3 linked regions of the Homo sapiens genome follow. The protein of the gene in region 2 purifies or fractionates together with the protein of the main gene of each other region. This does not show direct contact. Each region holds a gene or a part of one and is shown on either strand. Other genes may lie near its edges.

Region 1 (3,656 bases), on a different chromosome or scaffold from region 2:
GCTGCTGCATAATTTGTGAAACACTGCTAATTTTTGGAATGTTACACATACCCCTAACCAAATATGATGAGCAAAATGCATTCCCCCACCAAAATAAAAAAGGACACAAATTATCCATGTCATGCCTCCTCTTCGCTAATGCAACTGAAGGCAAGCTATAGAAAGCATTTTTTTTTCTGTTTGAACAAAGACATGCACTGTAAACTCTTAGCATTTACATTATTTAATTCTCACAACAACCTTATGTGGTAACTGCTTTTAGTATCCCCATTTTACCCATGAAGAAACTGAAGCTCATCAAAGTTAAGGTTACCCTGTAGTAAGAGCTCAGTCAAGGACTGTTGGAGTCCCAAGCCCATGATTTTGGCCACTGTGCTCTACTAGCTCCACTTTGTTGCCTACACTTGTGCCTTTCTACTACCATCTTGGTGAATTAGGTCACTATGTTCTACCCAGTCTTGGCTGAACACCCATGAGCACCCATTCAGAAGACTCAAATAGCTAGATTTTCTTTTTTAAATGTCTACTTCTTTTTAAAAAGTATTCTAAGAGAAGCCAGGCGTGGTGGCTCACACCTGTAATCCCAGCACTTTGGGAGGCCAAGGTGGGCGGATCACTCGAGGCCAGGAGTTTGAGACCAGCCTGGCCAACATGGCAAAACCCCATCTCTACTAAATATACAAAAATTAGCCGGGTGTGATGGCACATGCCTCTAATCTCAGCTGCTTGGGAGGCTGAGGCAGGAGAATTGCTTGAACCCCGGAGGCAGAGGTTGCATTGAGCCGAGATCGCGCCAATGCACTCCAGCCTAGGTGACAGAGTGAGACTCTGTCTCAAAAAATCTAAGAGAATAAGCATAAAAGTCAGTATACCATGGGTGAAATGTAGGACCTATCAGGGTTCCCAAATGTGGGCTGCAACATCAACAATGAGCACCTGAGGTGCTCATTAAAAATACATGTTCCTTGAGCCCACCCTAGACATTTTCAGAATCTCTTCCCTAGGGAGAATGGCCCAGGAATTTATATTTTAAAATAGGTACAGGTGATTCTAACGCAGACCAATTGGAAAACCTAGACGTATACAACTATCGGTTTACTAGAATAATAAATTAGTTACCATTATCTTCCTTCTTCAAAAATAGGAATTAACTGTTAATAAAATTAGAGTGTATACTTAGGCTCCACATTTCAGGTTTTTTTTTTTTTTTTGAGACGGAGTCTCGCTCTGTCACCCAGGCTGGAGTACTACTGGCGCAATCTCGGCTCAGTGCAACCTCTGTCTCCCCGGTTCAAGCGATTCTCCTGCCTCAGCCTCCCGAGTAGCTGGGATTACAGGTGCCCGCCACCAAGTCCAGCTAATTTTTGTATTTTTAGTGGAGACAGGGGTTTCACCATGTTGGCCAGGCTGGTCTCGAACTCCTGACCTCAGGTGATCCACTCCCAAAGTGCTGGGATTACAGGTGTGAGCCACTGCACCCGGCCCATTTTGGGTTTTAACAACTGGTTTCAATGATATCATGGGATTAATTAAAAAAAAAAATTGGCATCATCAGAATTCTCAACCAGTAGATGGCCCTTACCGATTATTAATATTGCTAGGGGAAAAATACTCAAGTTGCCCAAATGGGGAAAAAAGTACTTGCACTTGAAAAGCTGGTTATAAGAGAACAAATGTAATCAGAATCATATCTTCCCACTGATTTTCACTGTAATAATATGTTCTTATGAGTGTAAGTGCAGGCCCTAAAATTTAAGCAAAATTTTATCTAGGAATGTCAAATACATTTGAAGAAAATAAATGATTTTCTGATAAAAGTATAACTGCTAAAATCAATGAATAAAAAACTATACATAAGGGATATAAATTATACAAAGGGATAAATCTATGTAAAAGGTATATGTTCTGTTAACTATTAGAAGCTTTTAATATAGGAATTCTCTTTAAATGCAGTCCATAGTTGTCCATATAAGGCCCTTAACTTTTAAGCTAGATAAAATTGGTCTTGTGTACAACTTCGGAATTCCTTTTTTTCAAGTAACTCAAGGTTACTACAGTGGTTTTTTTCTAGAAATGTCTTTTTTACTGTTTACTTAATATCTTTTGTAAATGCTTTATGTAAATAATAGAAACTTGACTCTTCCATTTTATGCTGGTTTTGTAAAGTTTCCATAAAAGGTTAAAAAGTTCCATAATGCACTGTTTCCTTAAATGATATAGATTCCTGCATTGTACACTTCCATTAAACAAATACAATTTATAAAAATAAGTTTTAAAAAGAATAAATAACAAAATATATGTAACTTCGGAAATGACCGTCAATGAAATAAGATGTCTTTTTAACAAAGTGAAGTCCACAATTTAAACTGTACCTTGTGTGCATGGCCTTTGACATCAAAGAAGATTGTGAGGTTATGGTTTAGGCACTCTGCAACAGCTTCCCTTAGGGTAGGGATCTTTTCATCAGGGAAATCATTCCTGTAAGAGAAGAGAAAATACGTTGTAGGAAAAAAGAGAAACAGATAAACTGTATTGCAACAAACATTTTGCATATGTCTCTCAATCAAAAGGAAAGAGTGTTTTCTCCAACTTCCTTTTTTCGACCATAGCAAAGTCCAAAGATACTTTACTTTAAGATTTTTTTTTTTTTTTTTGAGACGGAGTCTTGCTCTGTTGCCCAGCCTGGAGTGCAGTGGTGCAATCTCAGCTCACTGGAACTACCAACTCCCAGGTTCAAGCAATTCTCCCGCCCCAGCCTCCCAAGTAGCTAGGACTACAGGCGTGTGACACCACGCCTGGCTAATTTTTTGTGTTTTTAGTAGAGGCGGGGTTTCACCATGGTGGCCAGGCTGGTCTTGAACTCCTGACCTCAAGTGATCTACCTGCCTTGGCCTCCCAAAGTGCTAGGATTACAGGTGTGAGCCACTGCGCCTGTCCTACTGTAATAATTTGAACCAAATTATAGATATTCTTTTTTCCACATTTTTATTGCTATACACTTAGACATATTTTTGTGATATGCGCATAATGTATAATGATAAAATCAGGGTATTTAGGATGTCCATCACCCCAAATATTTATCATTTCTTTGTGTTAGGAACATCTAAATCTCCTAGCTATTTTGAAATATACAACAGATTGTTAACTATAATCACTTTACTATGTTATTGAACACTAGAATTTATACCTTCTATCGAACTGTATGTTTGTACTCATTAACCAAATTCTCCTTATTCTCCTCTTCCCCCAACCCCAAACCCTTCCCAGCCTCTGGTAACTATCATTCTCCTCTCTACCTCCATGAGATCAACTTTTTTAGCTCCCATATATGAGTGACAACATGTAATATTTGCCTTTCTGTGCCTGGCTTATCTTATTTCATTTAACATAATACCTTCAGTTCCATCCATGTTGCTGTAAATGACAGGATATCATCCTTTTTTATGGCTAACTACATAGTATTCCATTGAGTATATTTACCACAGTTTATCCATTCATCCACTGATGAACACTTAGGTTGATTCTGTATCTTGGCTATTGTGAATAGTGTTGCAATAAACATGGGGGTGCAAGTATGCCTTTGATACACTAGTTTCCTTTCTTTTGGATAGATACCAACTAGTGGGATTACTGGATTGTATGGTAGTTCTATATTT
Region 2 (3,656 bases):
GTGGCTGGAGCATCATGAACAATGAGCAAAGGGAGGTCATGGGGTGAGATGCACCACGGTAAATTTTATATTGCATTCTGTGTGCAATTGGAAGTCATGGAGAATCTTAGCAAGGGAGGGTCATGATATAATTTAGGCTTTGGAATAATGGAGCAAGACTGCAGGGGTCCCCGGTGAGAATGATACCCCCTTATTCTAAGAGTTTAGCAGTGGAAGCAACGAGAAGCAAATTCAGGGGCTAACGTGAAAGTAGAGCCAATAAGACTTGGTGATGGATTGGATATGCATGAACATTAGGAACAGAGATGAATCCAAACTTTTTGGCCCCACAGCTGGAACAATGATGATGCCATTAATTGAGATGACAAATACAAGGGGGAAACCAGATTATTTAAGATGGAAAATTAAGACTTTTCTGCTGGACCGCTTCTAACCTATAGTTAAGTGCAGTGAGGATGTAGACGGTTGGATCTGCAAGTCTAGAACTCACGGGACAGGTCCAAGATGGAGGCATGAATGTGAACGTGATCAGGTTGTAGATGACATTTGAAGCCATGAGACTAGATAAAATCATCAAGAAGAGAACAATCCAAGGTGGGAGGCCTGGGGCAGCTGGGGCCTTCCAGCATTTAGATCTGTTAGAGAAACAGCATCCTAGGACTCCAGTATCCAACCAGTGAAAGCCTATGTTTCTGTCACTCATGAAAAACAGTAATTTGGATAAGTTAGCCTCAGTCTTGCTAGTTAGTGCTGTGTCTGATAACTCCATTTCCCATTGGGATTTATTGTACATCAGCAATTGGTTGGTTGGTTGGTTTTTAAGGAATAAGAATCATATATAAATAGTCGAATGTGATTTCCTGTGCTGTTTTTCATGTGTTCCTGTGGGGAAAAGGCTTACTTTTCCAGGTATATTGTTGTTGTTGTTTATTTCTTATCAGCCTTTATTGTCTTAAGACTTAAGAGTGACTGTCTCTTTTATTATCTGAGCGTAGGATCCAGGAATGGTTTCAGTCTGACTTTAATCTGATGCTATGTGTTGATGAAGATGCCTTCTTCAAGATATGGCCAGAACTGTTGAGTGCCTCAACTTCAGAAATTTGTTTATAAAAATCAAAGGACCTCTTGAACGAACTCTATTTTCTTAACCGTCTGGTCCCACCTGTTGCAGATTCAAAGCCAGGCTTGGATTGCCTTAGTAGCAGTATAGCATACTTTAAGAAAGCCCCAAGTTTTTGGTGATGCATTAAGCCCAAACCACTTTGACTTAACTGTGTGTCTCACTCACTTTCAGAAAGACCTCACTGGAGTTTTCACTCATAAATCCCAGGGTCAAACAACTGACATTGCTGAAAGTGATTCCTTTATCTAATCCCCTATACAGAACTCCATTCACTCTTGATTCAACATTGATAGAGCTCTTGAATAATACAGTACTTTACTGTATGGAATGAAACTTGGAGCTCAATCACTTTTTCAAAAAAATCTTTCCTTTCCGTAGGCTAAATCCATATCTTAATATAACCTTGGAAATGAAAGCAGCAAACCAAAGTTTCTTTGGAGCAGTTTTGTTCCAACTTTTATTTTCATTCCCACTATAAATGTGTAAAGGCAATCTTTCCTTGAAAGCCTATTATTGAATATTTGACAGTGGCTTTTCCACTTATAAATTCTGTCTCTCTTCCATTTCTCTTGGGAACTACCAGCGCTCCTTTGCCGATTTCTTCATTTTGTCCAATGGTTTGTGATTTCACATACTTAACCAATGGTACTGTTTCTTAACGCCCCAGTTCAGTGATGGGGATGACTACAGATTTTGTGGTTATATTTTTGTTCTTTCTACAGCATTTTCTAATATTTGTCTGATACCAAAGTCCATTTTCACATGGTCATAGGTTACTGATGGTAACTCTGATATCAGTCGCCGGCAGGCCACTGTTTGAAATCAGATCTGATAATACAGGCTATAAATCTTAAAACTCCAGACAACAATCCTCATGCTTCTAGCATCCAGAGTTTAGAGATTACAGCAACATTCCAAAGATAAACTGAGTTTACAACTTGATTCACACTTAGGATTAAGCTCTTTTTCTCCACATGAGTAATTAATTATTTGTTAGTTAAATGTTACTGTCCATGATAAAAGAGGAAATATGTTTCACCTAATTATCATTGCAACATTCTTCTTGAAACATGTTTTGACAATTAATAACCTTTTTTCTCAATATAGGATGTACCCATGGGTCAGCATAATTTTCAAAATCGCACCTTAAGGTATGGTATCTCTCTATCTGATTTTTTAAAGCTTATTGCTCTTTATTCATTTCTGAGAGTAATTATCATCAATTATGGTAATTTCAAGGGCTACTTCTGAAAGAGCAGCTCCCCCTGAAAAGCCCTATTAAATTGCTTTCAGCTTCTAAAAATAGAATCATTGGGGTCTTATTGTTAGAATTGAGAGAGGGAGAAAGAAAACACCACCTGGTACTCATTTTAGAATGTTAAACTGTTTTCCTAAAGAGACTCTTCTTAATATTAATGTGTGGTAAAAAAAAAAGTGAATTGTCTTAAAATGGGTATGTTGCTTACAATTACATTTTTCTGCCTGTAATCCCAGCACTTTGGGAGGCTGAGGCGGGTGGATCACTTGAGATCAGGAGTTTGAGACCAGCCTGGCCAACATAACAAAACCACGTCTCTACTAAAAATACAAAAAAAATTAGCTGGGTGTTGTGGCATATGCCTGTAATCCCAGCTACTCGGGAGGCTGAGGCATGAGAATCACTTCAACGCGGGAGGCAGAGGTTACAGTGAGCCGAGATCGTGCCACTACACTCTAGCCTGGTCGACAGAGTGAAACTGTGTCTCAGAAAAAAAAAAAATAAAAAGAAAAAAGTTACACTTTTCTGTTGAATTCTAAAGGTAAAAGCAGGATAAATCCAGTCTGTCTATAGTGAAATAAAGGGTTATCCACTCTGCTCAAAAAAAGAGAAAAGTTTCCCACAAATGTCTCCACACGCCCTGTCGCAGCCACCGTAAAATCCCAGGCACCAACTCCTTTTTTCCCCTGTTCCTCTATCTTTCGGGCACAGAGTTTTACTTTAATATTGGTTTGGGAGTTAATCAAATCAATATTAGGACATTCAGATAACCAGTGTAAGATGTAGTTCCAAACCCTAAGCCAGGCTTTCTTTCTCCCCAGAGAGGTCAATTTATTGGAGCTATTGATAGTTTTATAGAAACTAAGGAAAAATATGAGATCTGACCTATTTTCTATAGAAAAGGAATTGTACCCAAGTAAAAATGAAACATAGGTTGTAACCTGCTGAAACAAGGCAACAGGGCACATTAGCCCAGGATCCTTCTAAGTGACCGTTGGGATGAGCTCTAATTTGGACTTCATGCAAAATTTGACATTTTAACATTGAGATATAACATTCATAGTCTTTATGTTATGAGGATAATTTGGTTCTTGAGCTTTTGAAGCATTATAATTAAGTGGCATATACTGTAATAAAGAGAACTTAAGCTAATTTGAGGCATATTAGAGAGCCCATAAGACACCTGGAGACAGCACGGTGCCTCTGGCCAATAAGATGCTGACACATCTATGAGCAACTGACCACAGAAATGTCACAGACTTCCTTTCACTTTAT
Region 3 (3,656 bases), on a different chromosome or scaffold from region 2:
GCAATTAATCTTTTACACTTACTTGTAAAATATTATTTAAGTCTACTATGGACAGTAGGAATGACATAAAGTAAAAATCCTTCTGTGTGAGCCATGTGTTTCACATTTCCATGCTATTCTGGACCTTCTATAATTTCCGACTAATGTCATTACATTGTGAACACCGAATTGGAAATCATCACAGTTTTTCCTCTTGGAGTGTTTTGCTCATCCATGTTCCAAATCTATTTTTACCCTCTAGAAGCCCAATCTGTTTCAGATTATTTTTCTCATTCCAGCCCCTGCATTTCAAAAGGCTAACCTTAGTGTGATTGTGGGTACGTGTACATGTAGGATATAATAAGAAATATCTATTTGGTCTCTGCCACTGGCTCCTAACACAGAGCTCCTAAAACCCTTATAATCTCCTGAACAATGGGGTGCTAGGTGCATCTATTGTTCTAATATTTGGTCTTTGACCCTGGTACCTGACACAGAGTTTCTAATCCCTTGGAATTTCCTGGGCGTTAGAAATGTCTTTTGTTCTAATGAGGCGACTGTTGGATAGCTTCAGGATGGGGGCTGGTCATGAGAAAGTCCAAGCCATGATTAGAAGGTTGAATTTTTCAACTCCACCCCTCCCCGCATCTTCAGGAAAGGGAGAGGAGCTGAAGACTGACTTAATAATAGGTCACACCTATGTAATCAAGCTTGCATAAATATTACTGAACTACAGGTTGCAGAGAGCTTCCAGATTGCTGAACTCGTGGAAGTTCTTGGAAGAATGAGTGCCTGGAAAGAGCATGGAATCTCTGTGCCAAGTGCCACATACCTTGCTCTTTGCCCCTCTTCCATCTGGCTGTTCATCTTTGTCCTTTGTAATATTATTTGTAATTGATGGGTAAATGTAAGTAGTGTTTCCCTGAGTTCTGTGAGCTGTCCTAGCAAATTATGGAACCTGAGGAGGGGATCATGGGAACCCTGATTTATAGCCAGTCAGAAGTACAGGGGCTTATGATTGGCATCTGAAGTGGGGACGGTCTTGTGGACTGAGCCCTTGACCTGTAAGATCTGACTAACTTTAGATAAACAATGTTAGAAATGAGTTAAATTATAGGATACCCCATTGGTGTCCAATGGAGAATTGCTTGGTGTTTATGGGGGAAACCCCATATATCTGGTGTCAGAAGTGAAGGATTGAGACTATTGAGTGAGAGTTAAGCAGGAGAGAACAGTTTGTTTTCCATTATACATGCATCATCTTTAAAATATATTGTTCCCTTACAGAATATGTTAACTTAGATTGTTGGCTATTTGGCAAACACCTTAGAGAATTATCAGCCTGTTCTCTAATGAGAGCCAAATGTTTATGATCTTAATCCCCATTCTACTCTTCCCATGTAGCAGGTTTTGACATGCTTACAATCACTATAGTATTCTCCCTTTCTTGCAAAAACATCTCTTGGGCAGATAGAAAAAGAAAATAACTTTGGTTCTCAGTAGAGAATGGGATTTGGATGAAGCATCTTCCTCAAGAGAAACTGGGGTGCGGGGTTTTTGTTCTGGTTTTATTCTTCTATAAAGATTTTTGAGAAAGTCTCTGATGAGAAGACACAGATACGAATAAGGTTTCATGTAGAACTGGCTCGCATGCTCACACACACAAGAGCTTTGCCCTTGCATAGCGATTCAGCCAGTGATACTAACTGCTTTCAGATGGAATACAGGGTCAGAAAAATGCATTATTTATAAAAAAAATAGCTGCTATCATACTCCAGGGACGTGTAGATCATTCACTTGACATTTTCCCAACAGAGCTACTTCTCTATCTAGGAGATGTTTCTGTTTTTTCTCTGTTGGTGAGGGGAACTCAGGTGACTTGCTTAAGAAGTGGGTCAGAGAGAAAAAAGCATGCTAATCTTTATTTTGCATTTCACCTTTAACTCTAGAAGGCTAGCAGAGTTTAGCACAGTCTTGCACTACAAGTCTAAATTTAAAGAGAGGAAATAACCTGATTGGGAGACTTACCTATTCTTTTATGTTCTTTTATAGGAGAGGCTTATCTTAGCCTTTCTCCCTCAGCACATTCAATTTCATTCTTCTCTTCCCAGTAAAACCAGAAATTTCTTGGCAAAATGTGTGGCTGGCTTGTACTAATGATAATAGCAACATTCTCTCCTGCAAGTATGCTTCTGTCATTATGCCTTATAGAAGACTGGAAAAACCTGACAACTTTGGCCCAATTATAGCTTCTTTCCAAATTTACAGAGGAGTGACCTTAAGGTTTACATTAGTTGACTTTCAGGGTGGTGAGTACTGATCATAGAGCACTGTAATGTAGTACTAGGCATTGAAGATGTGTTTCACCTAAGTATTTCCAAACCAAGCACTCTATTATAAATATGTCATCAATTCACAAGATGTGGTGCTGACAAATTATATAAATACTGACTGCATTTTGAATTCCAAGTATTACATTGACTGGAATTTAAGCTTCAGATGGTGATTTGGATTAGATACCCTTTAAGATTTTTTTTCAGTATTAAGTCTTATGCTTTGTGGTTATTGTATTACCGCCAAAAGGAAAATGTGGCCAATGTAATATACTTTAAGGTCAGTGAAAATAAAAACAAGATGGAGCTATTTTTAGTTTCTGTAAATCTATTCTACTGGACAATTACTTTGTAAAATAAATAGTATGTGATTGGATGTTTCATTTCTTAGCAACCTACACTGACTAGATGTACTCTTACAGATAACTCCTTAAGGTTTATTTCCTTGATGTTAGATTTTTCTCTTATTCTAGTGACGAATAACCTTACTTTTCATCTTTTTTTTTTTTTTAGGTACTGTCCAAGAAGCTGGAACATTATTATCCAGCAAGAATGTTCGTGTCAACTGTTTGGACGAGGTAAGATTTTAGAAGTTTAATAAAGGATTTTACTTCCTATAAGAAGAGATAATATATCCTTTTTTTTTTTTTTTTTTTTTTTTTTTTTGAGATGGAGTGTTGCTCTTTCGCCCAGGCTGGAATGCAGTGGCACAATTTTGGCTCACTGCAACCTCCGCCTTCTTGTTTCAAGTGATTCTCCTGCCTCAGCCGCCCAAGTAGCTGGGATTACAGTCACCCACCACCACTCCTGAGTAATTTTTCTATTTTTAGTAGAGACAGGGTTTCACTATATTCACCTGGCTGAGCTCGAACCCTGACCTCATGATCCTCCTGCCTTGGCCTCCCAAAGTGCTGGGATTATAGGCATGAGCCACCACGCTCAGCCTTCAAATCTCTTAATACAAGTTTTTTTTCTAGCATTTTTGCTCATATTACACTAATAATTCCTAAACTAAATGTAAGCAAATAGGTCATAAAAGAAAAATAAGCATGTAAAAATAGTTTAGTCTTATTAGTAATCAAATAAGTGCAAATAAAGTCAAAATCATATTATTTCTTGTCAAGCATGGGGAAAAATGGACTTTTAAATGCTAATGGTTAAGTGTAAATTGATGTACTATTCTGTAGAAAATTTTGGAATATGTATCAATTTTAACTGAGTATATTATTTGATCCAGCAACTTCAGTTCTAGGGAAAGTTAAGTGAACCTAAACTCAATTTCCTAGAATAGTTGCTTCTAAAATAAGTTTTGGAAATGGTGGTAACATCTGAGCATTACAGTAG

What was found.
Region 1: the proteins of ADCY2 (region 2) and GDE1 purify together in Homo sapiens (affinity purification with mass spectrometry; one large-scale study listed by BioGRID and IntAct). This does not show direct contact.
Region 3: the proteins of ADCY2 (region 2) and ANKMY2 purify together in Homo sapiens (affinity purification with mass spectrometry; one large-scale study listed by BioGRID and IntAct). This does not show direct contact.

Annotation. Positions count from the first base shown.
Region 1 is NC_000016.10:19,508,467-19,512,122, forward strand, and holds part of GDE1 (glycerophosphodiester phosphodiesterase 1), read right to left. Parts: intron 2,479-3,656; coding exon 2,373-2,478; intron 1-2,372. UniProt on the Homo sapiens protein: Hydrolyzes the phosphodiester bond of glycerophosphodiesters such as glycerophosphoinositol (GroPIns) and glycerophosphoethanolamine (GroPEth), to yield a glycerol phosphate and an alcohol.
Region 2 is NC_000005.10:7,710,626-7,714,281, forward strand, and holds part of ADCY2 (adenylate cyclase type 2), read left to right. Parts: intron 1-2,230; coding exon 2,231-2,274; intron 2,275-3,656. UniProt on the Homo sapiens protein: Catalyzes the formation of the signaling molecule cAMP in response to G-protein signaling. Down-stream signaling cascades mediate changes in gene expression patterns and lead to increased IL6 production.
Region 3 is NC_000007.14:16,635,625-16,639,280, reverse strand, and holds part of ANKMY2 (ankyrin repeat and MYND domain-containing protein 2), read left to right. Parts: intron 1-2,825; coding exon 2,826-2,890; intron 2,891-3,656. UniProt on the Homo sapiens protein: May be involved in the trafficking of signaling proteins to the cilia.